2 separate regions of the Homo sapiens genome follow, and region 1 is linked to region 2. A link means that fine-mapping ties the variant in region 2 to the plasma level of a protein whose gene starts in the linked region. Region 2 holds a variant in brackets. A gene starts in the other region. All regions are shown on one strand. Distances are between the middles of the regions. Region 1 holds the start of GPC1 (glypican 1). Region 2 overlaps BIN1 (bridging integrator 1).

Evidence for each region. PIP is the chance, under the fine-mapping model, that this variant and not a neighbour inherited with it causes the effect. The UK Biobank Pharma Proteomics Project read protein levels with antibody pairs (Olink). The fine-mapping took linkage between variants from a reference panel, not from the people measured, so its PIPs are less certain.
Region 1: GPC1 starts here. The variant in region 2 is fine-mapped to the plasma level of the GPC1 protein (UK Biobank, PIP above 0.99).

The regions. Positions count from the first base shown.
Region 1 is chr2:240,434,421-240,437,421 of GRCh38, reverse strand. It overlaps GPC1 (glypican 1), which reads right to left and starts at 1,759. Exons shown (of 9, transcript NM_002081.3): 1 at 1,338-1,759. The coding sequence starts at 1,503. RefSeq lists enhancers at 1-386, 2,120-2,696 and silencers at 1,511-1,570, 1,631-2,290.
Region 2 is chr2:127,103,052-127,105,551 of GRCh38, reverse strand. The region is part of intron 1 of BIN1 (bridging integrator 1); the gene reads left to right. Among named protein-coding and RNA genes, the nearest start is that of BIN1, 2.9 kb to the left of the region's middle. RefSeq lists an enhancer at 1,270-1,822. The variant G/C (reference allele first, on the strand shown) is at 1,183.

The DNA.
Region 1 (3,001 bases), 110 Mb before region 2:
CTGCGGGTTCTGTTCCTTCTGTGGGGGGCGGTCAGGGGGCCCTTACAAGAACCTCAGGCTGGGGGCATCGGGAGATCCACCAAGGGCAAGGGGCTGTCTGTGGGTTCTGTTCCTCCTGGAGGGGCAGGGGTCCAGAGCCCGACTGCCTCCTCCCACCACTCCGCCCCCCGCGGCAAGGCATGGCCACAGACCCCCCTCACCCAGATGCACGGATCCTTCTTGCTCAGAATCCCCAGGACCATGGGCATTTCTGCGCTGAGTCCCCATCTGAGTAGCCCTCCACCCGCACTCCCACTCCCCTGGTTTCAGAGGAGCCCCCCAGAGCAGGAACCTAGTCTGTTTTGTTCTTGCCCACTGGGTCCCTGGCACGCGGTACAGACCGAGGTTGGTTCCCACACGTGGAAAGGTGAAGCTTGGGTTCCAAGAGTTCCTTAGCACACGGAGCCCACCGTTCCACCCACCCGTACACTTCTGTCCCCAAAGCTCCTCCGGGACCACAGGGAGGGAAGAGGCAGAGCCGCAGGCGGCTGCAGGGCTTAGGGGGCGCCAAGAGGGCCGCTGTTCTTACAAAGAAATGACACGGCCCCTGGGCGGGATCCAACGCGCCGACCACCTGCAGCTGGACTCGCGGCACGAGGCTGCCCAAGCGCCAGGCGGGGGCCGGCGCGTACAAGTTCTTCGACAGGAATCTCTACGAGGCGGCGGCGTTCCGCCCGCGGATAAGTGCCCAGCTCCCTCCCCACCCCTCCGCACTACCCCCCGAGGGGGTCAGCTTATAAAACCCACCTAGGCTGCCTTTGCTGGAGACCCTACGAGAATCCCCGGGCAGGACCGGAGACGCCTCCCAGAGAGGTCTGTACAGAGCAGAAGGGGTCCGCGGCCACCGTCAGCGGCGCCCCGAAAGCCCGGCCACGCCGAGCCCCACAGCGCCCCGACAGCCGGCCCCGGGGCTGGGACTCCCGGCCTGCAGGCGCGCTGGGCCGAGCGGCGGGCAGAAGACGCCCAGCTCCAGCCGTGGCCCGGGAGGAGCGCCCCGAGCCCGCAGCCCGGCGAGATCAGCTCCGCAGGGAAGAAGCCGGCGTGCGGGGGGCGGGGAGGGGCGGAGGACGACCGAGCGGGGCGGAGGAGACCCTGGCGAGGGAGTGCGGCGCGGGGCTTGGAGGCGAGGGCCGTGGGGTTGCAGAGGAGCCGCAGCGCAGGGAGCCATTCGGGGCCCGGGCGGCGGGGCGCAGGCGGCAGGATCCCGCGCCGGGGGCGAGTAGCCGCGTCGGGAAGACCAGGGTCCGGAGCCCAAAGCCCGGCCAGGCCCGGGTTCCCGGCGCCGCGCCCTCACTCACCCGAGATCTCCGCCTGGGGCACGTCGCTCAGGCTGAAGCCCTTGGCTCCGTAGATCTGGCGGACCTCGCCGCAGCTCCGGCTCTTGCTGGCCGGGTCCCCGCGGGCGCAGGCGACCAGCGCTGCGGCCGCACATAGCAGCCACCAGCCTCGGGCCCGGAGCTCCATGGCGGGGCCGGCGGCGCCCCCGGCCACCCGCCCGCGCCTCTCTCGGATCCTGGCCGGGTCCTGCGCAGTTCCCGCCCGCGAAGGGCAGAGCCAAGGTCCCGGCGCGCGCGGCTCGCGGTCCAGAGGCGGCGGCGGCCGAGGAGGCGGAGACAACAAAAGCCGGCGGCGGCGGCGGCGCGGGGCGCGCGGGGTGCGAGGTCCGAACGCTCGCTCGGGCAGCCCAGAGCGCGGCGGGCTAGCGCAGTCCCGGCTCGGCGCCTCCCCCGCCGCCGGCCCGGCCCCTAGGCGGCCGCGGGAGAGGAGAGGGGCGGGGCAGGGTGGGAGCGCAGGGGTGGGGGAGGGACTGGGAGCACCGGGCGGGGCGGGGCGGGGCGCGGCGCGGGGGCGCGGGCCGGGGCGCACTGGGCGCTCCTCTGGCTCTTAGGGACCCAGAGGGCCCGCCTGGCCGCGCGACTCTATCGATCCCCGGCGGGAGGCGGCGGAGCCGGGCAGCGCGGGGCCGCGGCCGGGGTCCCCGAGGGCGGCCCCCCACGCCCAGCGCCCAGGGCGGTGGCACCACCTGTGGGGGCGGGGACGGGGGCGGAGGGTGCGCGAGGCAGGGCTTCCCCCGCCGGACGTGACATCACGCCTCCCGCGCCCCAATCAGGGGCCTCCCCGCCCCCAGCCGAAATCGGCATCCCGCTCCCCGCTCCCTCCCGCGCGCTCCGGCTTCCTGCACCCTGGCAGCGCGCCCCGAGAACGCTCTCCCGGCGCCTCCGTACCCTCCGCCCGCCGGCCGCGCCTCGAGCCGCCGCCCCTCTCCCCGCCTGCACCCCGCAGCGGCTCCCTCCCCGCGCCCTTCCAGCCGTCTCGCGCTGGGCTCCGGCTCGCACCGGGGGCTTTTGTGGTGTGGGGGCTGCACGCAGGAAACTCGCCAAGAAACTCGACCTCACCTCTCCCAGTCCCAGGGAGCGGCAACAGATGGCTTAATTGTTGGACCTTGACAGCTGTTTTGGGGGGGTGACCCTCCACGTTCTTTGGATGCTGGAGAAACCAAAGTGATGGGGCAGGGCCGGTCTACTGGTTTGGGCTGCTGGGTGGGGCCAGATGACCTCTGGAGAAGGGATAGGGTTGGAACCCGGCGACTAGTTAGGCCACTGGGGGAGGAGGGTGGAGTGAGCCGGAGCAGATGCCTCTTTGAAGAAGGCGGGAGGGCTGCCTGCACCTTGTATGGTAGGAGGGCGCGTGGCTTTAGCTGCACATGGGGAGTTGGGCTGGATGGGGTCTGTAGGGAGGGGGCGAGGACTGCGATGTTGGTGTCTGGAGGGCTTCACTCCTTCCTTGGCTCCCAGACCCCCCACCCCGGCCCCCTGTTCTCCACATGGTAAGGCCTGGCGGTGAAGCCAGGTGCCTGAGCTGCAGAATTGGGGGCAGGCATAGAGGTCAGTATCCTTGGCAGAGAACCTCAAGATGACCCCCATGTACAGCAAGGGTGTCCTGATTTCAGGGCCTGTGGCAT
Region 2 (2,500 bases):
AAGTCCAGGTTTGCCCAGACCCAGCTCCCCAACCCCCCACCCCAGGGAAGGAGGAGGAGGAGGAGGAGGAGGAGGAGGAGGAGGGATTAAAGCCCCAGGAATAGCTGGCTGGGGGCTGGGAAGACTTCAGGTTGTGGGGTGGGGGGGTGGCAGCACAGATGCAGCCACCCCTGCTCCGGGCTGCCATGACTGGGTAATCCATCTGTGTGCCTGGAGCAGGCAGCCCTGGGCCAGAGCCTGCTTCCTTCCCTAAAGGGCCAGGGAGATGAATGGGAAGGGAGGTTAGCTGAGCTGTGTTCCCTGCCCCCTTCCCACTGGTGTCCCACCCCTTCCTGGCTCCCCAAGGCTCTTGGTGTGTCTCCTTTGCCCTGGTTGTCTTTTCTCTGCAGCAGCATCTTTGATGTCATTCTCGGGGCAGTAGGCAAGGGCTGTGTCCCCTCCAAGGAGGTGGTGATGTATCACTGAGCTCCTGAGACACCATCCCTCTCTCTTGAGCCCCTGTTCTGTGGCCACGGGCAGTTGGCTGACAGTTGGTCAGCTAGGCATGCTGGTCTTGGCCAACAGCTGACCTTGCCCATGCCGGGCTTCCTGGGACTGGAGTTGTTTAGTGTTCCAGCTGCTCTCTGCCTGCCGGAGACTAGTTAGGGACCCTCCCCCCATCAGAAACCAAGGCAGCATGACCATCATGACAGGCATCCAGGCCAGGTCTCTGAAAGTAGCCTTCCCCTCCCTTTGGGTTGCAGGCCCTGCTCGCAGGAAGCCCCATGCCTCAACCCACAGCAGCCTCTGCTGTGTGCCTTCCTGTAGAGTCTGTGCCATCATTGGAGGGTCATCCTCAGTGTCTTCTGTTGGTGATCAGTGCCGCCTCTAACTCCCACTGTCAATGAAACTGGAATCCTAGTCTCTTACAGGCAGCCCCACCACTATACCTACCTTGCCTTGGTGAAATCAGTGGGTAATAGGGCAATTCCAGTTTCCCTGTGGCTACAGGAAGGCGTTTCCTGAGCAAGGATGGCAGGAGCTGTGCTGGGAGGCTGGGAGAGTCCTGGCGTCCTGGCGTAGGAAGAAGGGCCCGTATCTTGCATCCACCCTTCACCCCCGGCCTTCCCACATCCACTTCCAGCCCAAACAAACATCCAGACTGTGAGGGTGACAGTGTGGTCAAGGGCAGCCTGCACTCTT[G/C]TAGGGTCCCCAAGCCAGCTCTTTTTTGACTGTTGTTACCTGTTGACCCTTCTGCCTCCACCACTGGTCTGGCTGATCCCTGAGGGCACGGCAGGGCACATCCAGGTGTGTGCATTGAGGATGTTACCTGGCCCCAGTCGGTGCTTAGTGAATGTTTTTGAACAAGGGATTTGGGCCTGACGCAGGCTGATGGTGGATTGATTTGTGTTGTTTGTTCTCTGCCATCACTCATTCATCAAATCCTGCCTGGACACAGGCCCAGTGCCTCCTGGGCTGAGTCCCCGATGCTGTCTCAGGCAGGGTGCATGTGTCTGGCCTGTCTGGAGCTTTTTCTTGAAGGTCCCATGGCCTGTGGCCTTGGTGTGAGGAGGGTATGAGAATAAATTGGAAGGGTTGCCAGGGCCTCCAGCATGGCACCATTGCTCCTGGCCCCCTGGCCACTGCCCCCGGAATGCGTGGGGTGCACTGTGTGTGCTGGGAGCTTGAGCCTGTGGGCGCCGTGAGGTCATCTTCCCATTGCGTTTGGCTTGTCGAACCCTCTATAAATGATTGTGTCCATTTTTGGGCCTCAGAAGAGTGGCTAGGCAAAGCCAGTGTAGGGTGGAGCCTGGGTCAGATGACGGGGAGGATTAGAGGTTGGCAGGCTGGGCCCCTCGCGGGATGGGGCGCCTGGGGAGAAGGACAGCTGAGGGGGTGGGGATCTGGCCTGCTGGCCCCTGAAGGCCCACGGCTTGGGAGTCCTCATGGAGCCGGCCTGACGGAGCTGGGCCTTTCTCTGACCACGCTGGGCTGACAGTGAGCACAGGAGGAAGGCTCTGGCAGGGTGGGAGTGTGCATGCTGTCCCTCCCTCCCGGCAGGTCCTGAGCATGCTGGAGGGGTGCAGGCTGGATAGTGGGGAGGGCCAGCTGGGCAGAGGGAGGGCCCAGGGTTGTCAGTGCCCAGCACAGCGCTGACATGCCGAGAAGAGGCTCGCTAAAGGAAGGTGCAGTGGTGGCGATTCCTAGAGCCTTGATGCATGGCCATGAATTGCACTATGCTCAGCTGCGTGGTCAAGGTCTCCTCACGCAGTAGCCACCTTAGCCTCCTCCGGAGGAGCCAGGCCTGTACACCAAGCGTTATATTTGCAGCAACCTCAGAAGCAGCAATGCTACACCTGAGAGTGGGTGCATGGTCCCTGTAATAGAAAGGACAATGGGGGCATAGGCAGGCCCAGCCACCTGCCCAAGTCACCCAGGCCCTCAGTGATGGCACTGGGAGCCCACCCAGAGGCCCTGGTCTCCTCACCTTGGCCACTGACTTTGCAGGGGTCCCGCCCCC